Regions from separate parts of the Homo sapiens genome. Here regions 1 and 2 are each reported to be linked to region 3. Evidence: microRNA targets listed by miRTarBase, many of them from high-throughput screens and not tested one by one. Region 3 holds a microRNA gene; each other region holds the end of a gene's coding sequence.

Region 1 (5,000 bases), not on the chromosome of region 3:
GTCTCCCAGGCTGGAGTGCAGTGGCGGAATCTCAGCCCACTACAAACTCCGCCTTCCAGATTCAAGCAATTCTCATGCTCAGCCTCTTGAGTAGCTGGGATTACAGACAGCCACCACCATGCCCAGCTAATTTTTTCTGGTTTTAGTAGAGACGGGGTTTTCACCGTGTTAGCCAGGCTAATCTTGAACTCCTGGCCTCAAGTGATCTGCCCACCTCTGCCTCCCAAAGTGCTGGAATTACAGGCGTAAGCCACCGTGCCCAGCTGGACCTGCACTTTTAAAATAACAACATTAGTACACTTACTTTATTCATAACTTACCTGAAGATTGTTTCCATTTTACAGGAAAAGTAAATGTTAAGTACACACTAAAGTTACTTTACATTTTAACTGAAGCCTAAGATAAATCCTTCAATTGAAATACTATATATTAAAGAAAGTTACAACACCTTTATATAAAGATTAAAATTTTGTGATTTTTATTATGATTCAGTTTTAAGTTTACATGAAAATATGATTTTTTATATTACAAATTATTTTTGTCTTATTTCTTCAGGATCCTGGATGTCCGGAACTTTATTGTACAGTCTCGTCCTGAATTTGCGGCTCTTGACTTTATTCTTGTGACTTCATTTCCGAATAAAGAGCTAACAGATGAAAGCCTGACACTGCTAGAAGCAGATATTCTTAACACTGTGTTACTCCAGCAACTAAAATAATATTGTTCCTGTCCATGCAGTAGCATGTGGGAATAGATGATGTGCCGTATTAATAAGGACAATACTTCAGCATTAAAAACAGCCAAATTATTTTTATTATTTTTACAGATAAATTTTGGTTTTATTGTTATTCTGTCTTCCAATCTGAATATAGACAAATTTGGATTAGGAATAGACCTTGAGATAAGTATGTTTGAGTTTTTAGTTGAAGGACTGGCTTATGTTGATAGTTTTTGGATTTCTAGGCAAATGAGTTGTTACATGCTTAGTGTTAATGTAACAACATTTGTTTGCAGAGAAAAATGAACAAAACCCCTTTTTGATAAATGCATTTGGTAAAATTTGCACTAAAGTTTCTTGATGCAGCATTGACCAACAGCCATTAAGAAATCTTTTGATCAAATAAGTTGAAAATTTGTCTATAATATATACTGAAACGTGTCTTTTGATTTTGAAATTGTTTGATCATACAATAATTATTTCTCCTATTAAGATTTTACACATCCTTTTTACTTACTGATTTAGATATATTACTAGTATCAGAAACTACAGTTTTGCCTTGTATTTTACAGAATTATGACTGTTGTGAACTTAAACAGAAACACATAAAGGTCAGCAATTCTTTTTTTTTTTTTTTTTGATATGGAGTTTTGCTCTTGTTGCCCAGGCTGGAGTGCAATGGCATAATTTCTGCTCACCGCAACCTCCGCCTCCCAGGTTCAAAAGATTCTCCTGCCTTAGCCTCCCAAGTAGCTGGGATTACAGGCATGCGCCACCATGCCTGGCTAATTTTTGTACTTTTGCTAGAGACAGCGTTTCTCTGTGTTGATCAGGCTGGTCTCGAACTCCGAACCTCAGGTGATCCACCCACCTCAGCCTCCCAAAGTGCTGGGATTACAGGCATGAGCCACCACGCCCAGCCTAAAGGTCAGCAGTTCTTAAGAAGATATGGTAAACAGCAACAATATTTTAAAATCAAGTAATTACAGTTCCTCCCAGAGCTTGCGTTGATCACATTCATTTATTCATTCAACACATTTTTCTAGGAAACTCACTGTATACACTAAACACTATTCTGTGTGCTCAACCTAGAATGTCTTCTCCAGAACAAGACTAGTGTAGAAATACAGGAATGTAAATTCTGTCAGACGGACTAGATCTAAAGAATTACCAGCATAAATGTTTGCATTTCTGCTGAAGCCAGAAGCTTTTCCTTCTTCCTAGACACCATTTCATCCTTAATTATTACTTCTGGTTAGTTTTCCATTGCCACCATAACAAGTTACAAAATGTGGCTTAAAATAGCACAAATTTATTATCTTCACAATTCTGTAGGTTAGGAGTCCAGGTTAAGAGTTTCGCGGTGCCAAGATCAATTTGTTGGCAGGGTTGCATTCTGTTAGGAGGCTCTACAGGAGAATCATTTCCTTGTCATTCCACCTTCTACAGGACATCCTCATTCCTTGGCTTGTGACCTCCTTCTTCCATCTTAAAAACCAGTGCTGTTTCATCTCTATGACCCTTCTGTTACCACATCTCTCTGACACCAGTGTGGAGAGGTTCTCTGCAGGACTCATGATTAAATGAGGCCCACCGGATATCCAATCTAGGCTTATCTCCTTGTCTTGAAATCCATAGTAACCTTAATTACATCTGCAAAATCTCTTTTACCATCTAAGGTTACATACAGGTTTGGAGATTAGGACATTAACATTTTACATGGAACATTATTCTTGCCTACTACAGTTCCCACCCACCCCCCGCTCCACTCCTGTGTTAAAGATTCAGATTCATCACAAATAAATTTACATCACTCATAGGTGCTCAAAAGTCACAATCCATTATTACAGCATCAACTCTAAATCCAAAATCTTATCTGAGTCTCACCAACTCAAAAGTCTCAAATCTCACATTGAAGCCATCTAAATTAAGTTTGGGAGAGGATCTGTGTGTGATTTCTGGGACATAATTCCAACTGTGCACTTGTGAACCTAGAAAACAAGTTATCTGTTCCCAAGTATGATGGCATGACAGGCAGACAATAATAGTTACACACGTTCCTGTTCAAAAAGCAGAAACAGATGGAAAAAGGAGCCATCAGCACCAATCAATTTACAAAACCAGCGAGGCACCCTTCTTTAAGTTTCAAGGCCTGGGAGTAATCTTCAGCTCACTGCTGTTCTCTGGGCTTGTTGACTGTCTCAGAGTCATCTTTACTTTTTCACAAAAGGTAGCACACGTTTGCAGCTGAGTATCAACTTATCAGTTTGTTCTTCTTTTATATTCTCTAAAGCTTTCTGTTAAAAATGGTGGTGCTTCTGCTGCTATAACGTTGTCAAGAAACTTGTGGGTCTTTTACATATGTCACAGGGATGCACTCATTTAGATAGGAGGCTCCTCACGTATCTTTCCTGGAAAATCCTGTCTCTGTTTTTGGCTTTTTCTGAAATAGCTGAGAGGATCTATGATTCACACCCTTAATATCTTCAAAGAGTCTTGTGTGTGACCTGATATTCAGACCTTTTGATGTTTCTGAAGTATTAGCAAAAGGTTATACAGCCATATCTTCATCACTTTCTCTAGAGTAAAGGCTGTCCTGACGGTGAATCTTAGTTTTAGTGGCTTTTGCCATTTGAATAGGCCGCGAATTTCCCAAATCATCAAGTCCTGGTTTCTTTATATTTAACAGGTCTTCCCTCAATCTACCTCTTTCCACATTTTACTATAATCAGCAAGAAGACAGCAGGCTGTACCTTCCACAGCTTGCTTGGAAATATCCTCAGCTAAATATTGAAGTCATCACTTAAAAGTTCTGCTTTACACATAACGGCAGGACACAACTCAGCTTAGCTTTTCGCCACTATGTAACAAGGACTCCTTTCCTCCACTTCTCCAGTAACATATTCCTCATTTTTTACCAACAGTCTATTCATGATGATTTAGATATTCTATGGCAATCGAGGTATTCTCTATTATGCTCCTTTCTTCAAGGCCGCCCTAGCATTAACATTCCATATTTCTACTAACAGTCTGTTTAAGGCAGTTTAGCTTCTTTTCTGGCATGCTCCTCAGAATTCTTCCAGCCTCCACCTACTGCCCAATTCCAGAGCCACTTTTCTACTTTTAGGTATTTGTTACAGCAGCACCTCAAGTACCTAGAAAACTCTTTTATGCCTGCTTCTCTGCCAGATGACTTGAATATGGTACTAGATTTGGAATTCACCTTTCTCCAGGGTCACTGTTTATTTCAAAGAGGTGAATTTACCTGTGCTAGGGTTTTCACACTGGGAGTGCTACCAGAACTACCACAGGATGAAAGTGGTGAGCCCACCACTGCAGAGAAGTTTTCTCAGTGCCGTAATATAGAGGAATTCTCAAAATAAGCCCTACTCCTTTTCACTTACTGAAAACAACTTGGATAATGTGTAACAGCCAGCCCCATTTCAAAAAGATTACCAGGGGTAAAACAACTTTTTCATGGGTCAAAATCATCTTCCGAAGAAAATGATTTCTTAAAAGAATTGAACATTGTAAATCAAAGGGCATTGTCCTGTTTTGGATTAACAAAACAGGAAAAATAACCAATCCTTGTAAAATTATTTGAAATTTTCTTGTTTTTATCAGTTGAGTGCCTATAGATGCACATACAAAAACAACTGCCATTTTTGTATATAATAGTCTTCCAAGATAGAGATTTACATTAGGAGAGAATTAAACATCCAGGAGGGATGAACAGTATTTCATGTGTGCTATGTAGTGTTTTGCTTCATTGAGAGTCATTTTCATGAATTATTTTTACTACTGCAGTCATCTTAAATTTATAATCATCTCAAAAAAGATGTCACAATGAACAGACAACCATCTGTGAGGTCAGTCATTTTGCATGATGTATGTAATCAAAAAGTTTGAAATGTCTGCTTACTAATAAAGAATGTTTTCACTGAAACTTATTGGAAAGGTTTTTCAAATTTTCTTTGATTTGTAGTTTTGAGTCCTGAATAGATTGTTTTAACATGAATAACATTTCCTGTGGTTTAATTTCCCTTGGCGCACCTTTGTCAGGGACAGGGAAGGAACTGGTTGTAGCATATTATCTGAATATCCTGTTACTGTTTCTGTTTTTATTCTACCCAAATAAAAAGGTTCAGGTGCTTCTTTTTTGCCACAATGGATTTCTGAAAACCTTGTCACAACTGTGAAAGGAAAGCAAATCTTGGGACCCCAGAATCACTAAGCTAAAGGGAAAAGTCAAGCTGGAAACTGCTTAGTGCAAACCTGCCTC
Region 2 (5,000 bases), not on the chromosome of region 3:
CAATGCCTTTCTTTACAGAATTGGAAAAAACTACTTTAAAGTTCATATGGAACCAAAAAAGAGCCCGCATCACCAGGTCAATCCTAAGCCAAAAGAACAAAGCTGGAGGCATCACACTACCTGACTTCAAACTATACTACAAGGCTACAGTAACCAAAATAGCATGGTACTGGTACCAAAACAGAGATATAGATCAGTGGAACAGAACAGAGCCCTCTGAAGTAACGCCGCATATCTACAACTATCTGATCTTTGACAAACCTGACAAAAACAAGCAATGGGGAAAGGATTCCCTATTTAATAAATGGTGCTGGGAAAACTGGCTAGCCATATGTAGAATGCTGAAACTGGATCCCTTCCTTACACCTTATACAAAAATCAATTCAAGATGGCTTAAAGACTTAAATGTTAGACCTAAAACCATAAAAACCCTAGAAGAAAACCTAGGCAATACCATTCAGGACATAGGCATGGGCAAGGACTTCATGTCTAAAACACCAAAAGCAATGGCAACAAAAGACAAAATTGACAAATGGGATCTAATTAAAGAGCTTCTGTACAGCAAAAGAAACTACCATCAGAGTGAACAGGCAACCTACAAAATGGGAGAAAACTTTCGCAACCTACTCATCTGACAAAGGGCTAATATCCAGAATCTACAATAAACTCAAACAAATTTACAAGAAAAAAACAACCCCATCAAAAAGTGGGCAAAGGACATGAACAGACACTTCTCAAAAGAAGACATTTATGCAGCCACAAAACACATGAAAAAATGCGCACCATCACCGGCCATCAGAGAAATGCAAATCAAAATCACAATGAGATACCATCTCACACCAGTTAGAATGGCAATCATTAAAAAGTCAGGAAACAACAGGTGCTGGAGAGGATGTGGAGAAATAGGAACACTTTTACACTATTGGTGGGACTGTAAACTAGTTCAACCATTGTGGAAGTCAGTGTGGCGATTCCTCAGGGATCTGGAACTAGAAATACCATTTGACCCAGCCATCCCATTACTGGGTATATACCCAGAGGATTATAAATCATGCTGCTATAAAGACACATGCACACGTATGTTTATTGTGGCACTATTCACAATAGCAAAGACTTGGAACCAACCCAAATGTCCAACAATGATAGACTGGATTAAGAAAATGTGGCACATATACACCATGGAATACTATGCAGCCATAAAAAATGATGAGTTCATGTCCTTTGTAGGGACATGGATGAAATTGGAAATCATCATTCTCAGTAAACTGTTGCAAGAACAAAAAACCAAACACTGCATATTCTCACTCATAGGTGGGAACTGAACAATGAGAACACATGGACACAGGAAGGGGAACATCACACTCTGGGGACTGTTGTGGGGTGGGGGGAGGGGGGAGGGATAGCACTGGGAGATATACCGAATGCTAGATGACGAGTTAGTGGGTGCAGCGCACCAGCATGGCACATGTATACATATGTAACTAACCTGCACAATGTGCACATGTACCCTAAAACTTAAAGTATAATAATAAAAGAAAAATAAATAAAATAAAAGAAAAAAGAAGAAAACCCCCCAAAAAAATTTTTTTTCTGAGTTCCATGTCTTCTAAAGAGTCATTGAACCTGAGGATGGCCTTGGGGTCTCTTGATCCCACTTTGTTGTCAAAATGGGATTCACTAGAATGTCTCTGAATCATTGAAACATGGCAAAAGCATGCTCAGAAAAGGAAGGATGAGTGGTGCTTATAAGGTGGTCTTATTGTGCCCCGACTGAATAGTGTCTTAGTCTTCTTGAACTATAGTCCTTAGATAACATTGAATGGGATTCTTGTTAAAAGCATCAAAGATATCTGAAATAGATCTATCCAGTTTTGAAAGTATCAGATTTGACCTGATATGCAATACAGGATATTGAAAGCTCTAAAATTGTCTTCATTTCTTTACAGATCTGGGTGAACCACTCTATAAAGCACAGAGAAAAATTCTTTCTTTGATATAGTTTTATAGAGACTGTGATACATGAAGTTACAGATTTGTGTGAGGTCATAGGTTTGTCTGAGTCACTGTATAAAGCACAGAAAAAAAAATTCTATCTTTGGCCCAGTTTCACAGAGACTGTAGGACATGAGGTCTAGAGAAGGACACTATACCAGGAAAATTTATTTTCTTCTCATAGCTTTAATTTAGTTTAATTTTTTGAGACAGAGCCTCACTCTGTCGCCCAGGCTCTGTTGCCCGGGCTGGAGTGCAATGGCACAATCTCGGCTCACTGCAACCTCCACCTCCCAGGTTCAAGTGATTTTCCTGCCTCATCCTCCTGTGTAGCTGGCATGACAGGCGTGTGCCACCACACTTGGTTAATTTTTGTATTTTTAGTAAAGGCAGGGTTTCGCCATGTTGGCCAGGCTGGTCTCAAACTTCTGACCTCAAGTGATCTGCCTGCTTCGGCCTCCCAAGTTGCTGAGATTATAGGCGTGAGCCACTGCACCTGGCCTCATAGCCTTTAAACCACCTCAGAGACCTTAATCTGGTGTCGAAAATTCAAACAACTTATTACCACTGATCTCTGGAAAGTTCATGATATTTTATCAATTGAAAATAATCACCCATGCATCAGCCTATTGTTTTTATAAAAGAAGCTTATTTAGCACAACCTATGCCTGAACATACTCCCAAGGAGATGTACAGAAAAATAAGGTATCTGTCTTCAAACAAACTTTACCTTTACATTTCAAACAAATACTATATTGCAATAAGTTCATGTGTGCCAAGACTATAATTACAACCTGGAGGCCCTAATTCCCTATTTTAACAGGCATTTTACGATGACTCTCCATGATCTAGGTACCATGGGCAACTTGGATCCTGATTCCAAGGGTCCTTGAAATATTTGGGTGTTTGTATTTCCCTAGTATATGGATATCTAGTAAATGGCTCCAGACGTTTCCTAGGAGGAGAACTTGGGAAATCATTATCATTTATTTGGGTCCTGGAGTTGCAGTGTCCTTTCCTGGGGTACTGCCCTCCACTCCAACTGAGTTCAGGGTCTGAAATTAGCTCAGATCAAGGCTATGGATGTGACACTTTATCAGGGCTACCTCTCAACATCCTGATAGACAGCATTTACTTCACTTGATTGTTTTCTCCCCATCCCATTTAACCCTATGGCTGGTCCATTGTATTGACCATCTTCAGAATTATCTCCATCAGGCCTTGCAGTCTGCCACTCATTACTATAACTGAATCTTCTTAGATTCTAACAATTAAGGGTCAACACCAGGCCTCTATGTGTCTGGGTCTATCATCCCCCATCAGGGGGTTCAGTTCTGGAAAGGCACATTGTCCTTTCTATCTGAGGCTACCGCAAAAAGACCACTACTGACAAGGTTGGCAGGATCCTTCCTATCAGTGCTTAATCTTAATGTTTGGTAATTTATGCTTCTAACACCTTAAAACTTGAATTCAGAGAAAGGAAGTAGAGGCTACTGTAGCTGAGATTTCAAAGGCCACAGAAAAGTGTATGCCTTAGTCTCGAAACAAATAGAAGGGATCGAAAAACCAGGCCAAAATGAAAACAAGAATATGATGCAAATTTTTTGCATTCTAGTACTCAGATCTTAGTCTTAGACCCCTCATTGGGCTGGCTGATGTAATTCCTAGAAGCAACAAGGAATTTCATCATCTGATAGCCAATTTCACTATTTTTTTATTGTTATCATTATTAGCATTGTCTCTTACATTTTCTTATTTATTTCTGAATCGGTAAAATAAGATTTCTTTACAAAATTCAAGAGTATAAAGTGAAGAGTATGTGTTCCTTCAACCCCTACATTCACTTGGTTCTTCCCAGAAGGAGCCAATAATAATAGATTTTGATTAATCTTTCCAGAGATATATTTGCATGCTTCCATATAATAATTGCATTTTTTCCATGCTGATAAGATAATCTACATTGCTTTACAACTTGGTTTTTTTTTTTTTCATTTTACAATGTCTCTTCAAGACCATTCTTTACTGGTACAAATAGAGCTTCATTGTCAATTTGTTTACTGGCTATATAATATTCCAGTACATGCACATACTAAAATTTATCTTACCAATCTAATGTGAAGGACATTCAAGTACATTGCAATATTTTGCCATTAAAAGCAATGCCTCAGTGGACCTCTTGTATGTAAATGATTTTTCAAAATTATATTTCCTAAAAGTGAACAAAGTTTTTCAAAGTGTGTATGGATCTGTTCTCTCATGTGGGCCAGGCACTGATATCCTCTAATAAGCACTTTTTATGTTTAAAACTTTGCTAAATGAGGGCTGGGCATGGTGGCTCATGCCTGTAAACCCAGCACTTTGGGAGGCCGAGGCGGGTGGATCATTTGAGGTCAAGAGTTCGAGACCAGCCTGGCCAACATAGTGAAACCCCATCTCTACTAAAAATACAAAAATTAGCTGGGTGTGGTGGTGTACACCTATAATCCCAGCTACTAGGGGGCTGAGGCAGGTGAATCTCTTGAACCCAGGAGGCAGAGGTTGCAGTGAGCTGAGATTGCACCACTGTACTCCAGCCTGGGCAACAGAGTAAGACTCTGAAAAAAAAAAAAAACTTGCTGAATGAAAATGAAAAACATACAGATCAAAAATAGTCCAAAGCATATATGTACAATCTATAATATCCTTAAAAGGGGAGCTTATGCTTTTTAAAGAGTGAGCTCACACCTTTGACACCATGACCAATTAATTTAGCAGGAGCAGACAATATTGCAGTTAGCTCATCGGCAAGGTTGTCCAAGGTTCGTGCAATCCAGGGAGTATCATCATTTTTTGTAGTATCAATCATACGTTTAAATTGACTTATCTCTGCATTCATCTCCTCATACTTCTTCTTAAATCCTTCATGAAGCCAATCATTTTGGACCTAAAGACAATGTAGGAAGGAAAGTAAATTTTTAAAAATCCCTATTCTTTTAAGACTTACATTTTGTATTTAAAACCTGTGTGAA
Region 3 (5,000 bases):
TAATGAGAAGTTATTTTCAGTTAGTATATCAGTGGTTTGCCTATAAACATGAACGTGAAAACACTTTTTCCAGCTATTTGAATATTCATGTGACATTCTTGATGTTCAGAGGAAAACTTCAGGCTTTGTTAGAATAGCATTCATAGTATCTTTATTTATGGAGGGGTATTGTAATTGATTTTAGAATCCTTGTTAGTCATCAAATTTTATTATTATTTTTTTAAACTCCAGGATTTGTGTTGTATTCAGGTAGTTTCCCCACCCCCGCTTCCTTTCCTGCCTCTGGTTTAATTAGAGAATATTCATGGCCCAGAAAAGTCAAATTGAAGCCAGAGTATTATAGAATGGTCAGATATATAAGAAACTGACATAGACGTAAAAGGAACTACATACTGTTGCTGGGCGTGGTGGCTCACGCCTGTAATCCCAGCACCATCTCAAAAAAAGAAAGAAATTACATATTAACTTTTTTCAGGAAGTTGTATAGTTCTAAGACCATTCTTCTAATATTTATCTTCTTTCTGAATTCTGACTTCTTGAGATTTTTGTGGACTAAGAGGAATATTTGATTAACTGTATTTTTACCCATTGTTATTCCTCCTAAAGATATTGTTTCAATAAACCAAATGTTTAAAGACGAAATTTTGGACTATACTGAAAACACTGCATATAAACCAGTTGCCAAAAGTTTTTGTTTTGGGGCCGGGCACTTTGGCTCATGCCTGTAATCCCTGCACTTTGGGAGACTGAGGCAGGCAGATTACCTGAGGTAAGGAGTTTGAGACCAGCCTGACCAACACGGCAAAAACCCTTCTCTACTGAAAATACAAAATTTAGCCAGGTGCCTGTAATCCCAGCTACTTGGGATTAGCTGCCTGTGGTAGCGCAGGCCTGTAATCCCAGCTACTCTGGAGGCTGAGGCAGGAGAATCTCTTGAACCCAGGAGGCGGAGGTTGCAGTGAGCCAAGATTGCGCCACTGCACTCCAGCCTGGGCAATAGAGGGAGACCCCGTCTCAAAAAAATAAAAAAGATGGTTTTTGTTTTTCCCTTTTAGTTTGTTAATTTTGTGCTAGCCATTGCTTAATTTTGTTTTTTCCTTTCCCTTTCTTCATCCTTAAGGATTTCAACTTCAATTTTTTCTTCTCCTGACTTATATTCTTGTGGCAGTGTACGTTTTGTTGGGTTAAGAACACTGCCTGCTTCCTCTTTATGAACTCTCTTCCCTGACAAAAAGCAAAGTTGGTAGTGTAGAGAAGTTTGTATTGTGTGTTTTTAAGAAGGCATGGTTATTACGTTTTAATTTTGTACGGATAACAATGTTAAGTGATAATTAAGTATTTTTAATTCTTTTTTTTCTTTTTAGTCTTTATAATATAGCTTTATGCCTCTTTTTTTCCTGTTTATTCACAAAAGAAAGGTGGTGGGAGAAGCTGTGGAAGATTCCTGAGTGCATATGGGGATGGGATGATCAGCTGAAACACCATGTTCCTAGCCAACTCGCTTTCCAAGGTGGTGTGACTAAATCTGACCAGCTTCTCTAGAGCTGAGTGTGCCTAGTCACATTTACTATTTACCGAGTGCTTTAAAGATACCTGTTGTCATCCGCAATACTCTAAACAGGTGTTCAGAATCTCTTGTAAAGGAGCTGGCCAAGCTTATTGCATGCCTTTGCATTGCTTGCATCTATGGGCCAAATTAAGCTTTTTTAAAAGAAGTTAAAAATCAAAATATTTCAGCTATTATATGTATGGGTTAAAAAAGTTGGAAGCATTAGATAAGGACATGAATATATTAATGTGGGTTAGGCTGTTTTGTTAGAATATATAATGAAGGTAATGTTAATGTAGAATTGAACAATTATTTAAATAAGTTTTACAAATGGTTTGTTTTTACATTTACCTATCTTAATTTTATGTCAGAAAGCCTGACTTAAATACTCTAACCATGATCATGAATGCCTTTGTATTATGTAATGCTTTGTTTAAGTCTTCCTTTCTTTCTCTTTGTCCAAGAAATATAATCTCACACCTGAGGCGACGGCATCTTTGAAAAACTAGTGATCAAGAATAACCAGATAAACATGATGGGCATAAGGGTCATGACCAAAAAGATCTCTCAGTGGCATCTGTATCACTAAATATTAGGAATATTCATTCATTTCAGTAGTGCCTTCTGTCTTTGTGTTTATTGTTGTAAGTGTGAAAGTGAACTGAATACTCCATGATCCATCTCTGAAAAATATTGCCTAACCTAAATCACCAGCTTTCCTGTGGCATGGATATCCTGTCTTCTGAAGAACTGTTTTTGCTTTTCTGGAGCATGAATGTTTGTTGTTTTAGAGCTCTTTGTATTCGAGTTCATATTTTATCCTTATTTTTAGTGCTTTTCCTCTAAGTAGCTTGTGGAAATTATTTCTGAGTAATTGAAGCTTCTGTGTCAACATAATAGTTTGTTGACATAAGAAACAGTGTTAAGAAATTATGCATTTGGAAAAAACTGAAGGTGATTTTTTCCAGGGAATTTGTTTCCTGGACTTGGGATTTCTTGTGCAAATTTTCCCCACTAGTTTGTTTTTCTCTACTATTATTTTCATAAAGGAGCAGCACCAGAATAGTCCTTAATATCGGAGATAGCTGTTGTGTCACTTCCTCATGCTGACATATTTACTAGAGGGTAAAATTAATAACCTTCTAGTAAGAGTGGCAGTCGAAGGGAAGGGCTCATCTGACTTCTGGAAACCTATGTTAAAATACAGTGCTTTGAACCTTGATCATGGGCTAATTAGGTTGGAAATGAAACTAGAGACCAGATACACCCAAGGAAACTTTTGGTAGTTATTTTACTTTATAAGTCACAGGAAATGCTTGTGTACTTTCCTGTGTTCCTTAAATAGTTGCACTTAAATTACCTCTTTGAAACTGAATGAAGAGACAGAGAGTATTTTTTTTCTTTCCAGAAATAATACTTGTTTATACCTGTAATAGCAATGAAATTTTGTTTCTTTTGAGACAGAGTTTTGCTCTGTCTCCCAGTCTGGAGTATAGTGGCAGGATCTCAGCTCACTGCAACCTCCACCTCCCAGGTTCAAGTGATTCTCCTGCCTCAGCCTCCCAAGTAGCTGGGACTATAGGTGCACTACCATGCCCGGCTAATTTTTGTATTTTTAGTAGAGAAGGGGTTTCGCCATGTTGGCCAGGCTGATCTCGAACTCCTGACCTCAGGTGATCTGCCCGCCTCGGCCTCCCAAAGTGCTGGGATTACAGGCGTGAGCCACTGCTCCTGGCCAGCAATGAAACTTGAGGCTATGCGAATGAAGGATTGTTCTAAGAGTGTAAACTATAAGGCGAGGAGGATTAAATAAAAAAACAGAGATAGGCTCTCAAAGCACCAAATAGTATGATTAACAGATTCTTGTGTATCACATTTGAAATGCTTTATGTTTTGGCTTTATGTTGATGAGTTGAAAACCCGTGTTTTTGTTTATGTTGTTTGGTTTTTGTTTTTGGCTATCTTATGTAGAAAGGCATGTAAGGGATGGCATTGATTATTCTAAATAATTTTTACTGGGAAAGCTTTTCCAAGATTTTGAATAGCTAAATGTCAACTTTTTTCTTAATAGTATTTTCATCTCAGCCTAGTGACGATGAATCAAGTAGTGATGAAACCAGTAATCAGCCCAGTCCTGCCTTTAGACGACGCCGTGCTAGGAAGAAGACCGTTTCTGCTTCAGAATCTGAAGACCGGCTAGTTGCTGAACAAGAAACTGAACCTTCTAAGGAGTTGAGTAAACGTCAGTTCAGTAGTGGTCTCAATAAGTGTGTTATACTTGCTTTGGTGATTGCAATCAGCATGGGATTTGGCCATTTCTATGGTAAGTACTCAAAAATGTGTTATACATAACCTGATGGGATAGTGTAGAGGAACTTAAGAGTGAGGACTCTTGGGATCTGTTTTCAGTGCCATTATTAAATGTGTGGCCTTGAAAACTTGAAGCCTGTTTGAGCCTCAGTTTTCTCATTCGGGAAGTGGGTGCTGCCTATCTCACAAAGCTTTTTATTTAAATAAGGTAGTAGTTATTAAGAAATGTAAGGATAATAACCATATATGTTTGTGACTCTTTTAAAGTTAAAAGATTGGAAGATTAAAAATCTGAAATGCTCACCATGAGGCAAATCATTTACATTTAGAATCACACTTAAACTAAGTTGAAGTGTGACTTTATTAGGAAGATTATTTAAATCCCAGTTGAAATAGTTACATTTGAAATGTGTAAATAATAAGTGTTCATTATTTCTACTTTGAGGTTTCATGTAAGTATCATACTTTGTAACTTTCATTGTTGCTTCTGTGATTCACATGAATTGAGAGTTTGTCATCTTTGTTCTTATACTTTGCTCTTTATTATGATTGATACTGTTTATATATGTTGATTATCTTATCAATTCAAAGCTTTTAAATGCCTTTTGGGTGAGAAGAGGAAGGTATTCTATTGGTGTTACTTTACTTTTTCATTTAGGAGCCTCACCCATTGACTCTCTCCTTTGTTTTTTGGAGACGGAGTCCCACTCTGTCGCCCAGGCTGGAGTGCAGTGGCACAATCTCAGCTCAATGCAAACTCCACTCCCAGGGTTCTAGCAATTCTCCTACCTCAGCCTCCGGAGTAACTGGGATAACAGGCGCCCGCCACCATGCCTGGCTAATTTTTTTATATTTGTAGTAGAGACGGGGTTTTGCCATGTTGGCCAGGCTGGTCTCGAAGTCTTTTTTTTTTTTTTTTTCTTTTTTTTTGAGACGGAGTCTCACTCTGTCGCCCAGGCTGGAGTCCAGTGGTGCGACCTTGGCTCAATGCAGCCTCTGCCTCTGGGTTCAAGTGATTCTCCTGCCTCAGCCTCCTGAGTAGCTGGGACTACAGGCGCCTGCCACCACGCCCAGCTAATTTTTTTGTATTTTTAGTAGAGACGGGGTTTCACCATCTTGGCCAGGCTGGTCTCAATCTCCT

What was found. The annotated mature microRNA hsa-miR-628-5p reads AUGCUGACAUAUUUACUAGAGG and lies in region 3 at 2,653-2,674, shown strand. An mRNA with a match to its seed (bases 2 to 7 or 8) in the 3' UTR can be bound and repressed. Matches are read on the target gene's strand: a 7mer-m8 pairs with bases 2 to 8, a 7mer-A1 pairs with bases 2 to 7 and ends in A, and an 8mer does both.
Region 1: miRTarBase lists UBXN2B as a target of hsa-miR-628-5p. Seed matches in the 3' UTR shown: 8mer at 1,330-1,337, 7mer-m8 at 1,646-1,652 and 7mer-A1 at 3,447-3,453.
Region 2: miRTarBase lists GBP6 as a target of hsa-miR-628-5p. Seed matches in the 3' UTR shown: 7mer-A1 at 4,605-4,611 and 7mer-A1 at 2,458-2,464.

What each region holds. Positions count from the first base shown.
Region 1 is chr8:58,446,834-58,451,833 of GRCh38, forward strand. It overlaps UBXN2B (UBX domain protein 2B), which reads left to right. Exons shown (of 8, transcript NM_001077619.2): 8 at 556-4,668. The coding sequence ends at 718. Among named protein-coding and RNA genes, the nearest start is that of UBXN2B, 38 kb to the left of the region's middle.
Region 2 is chr1:89,385,145-89,390,144 of GRCh38, reverse strand. It overlaps GBP6 (guanylate binding protein family member 6), which reads right to left. Exons shown (of 11, transcript NM_198460.3): 11 at 1,985-4,915. The coding sequence ends at 4,676. Among named protein-coding and RNA genes, the nearest start is that of GBP6, 24 kb to the right of the region's middle.
Region 3 is chr15:55,370,665-55,375,664 of GRCh38, reverse strand. MIR628 (microRNA 628) reads left to right here and starts at 2,631; the gene lies at 2,631-2,725. It overlaps CCPG1 (cell cycle progression 1), which reads left to right. Exons shown (of 9, transcript NM_001204450.2): 6 at 3,621-3,872. It overlaps DNAAF4-CCPG1 (DNAAF4-CCPG1 readthrough (NMD candidate)), which reads left to right. Exons shown (of 16, transcript NR_037923.1): 13 at 3,621-3,872.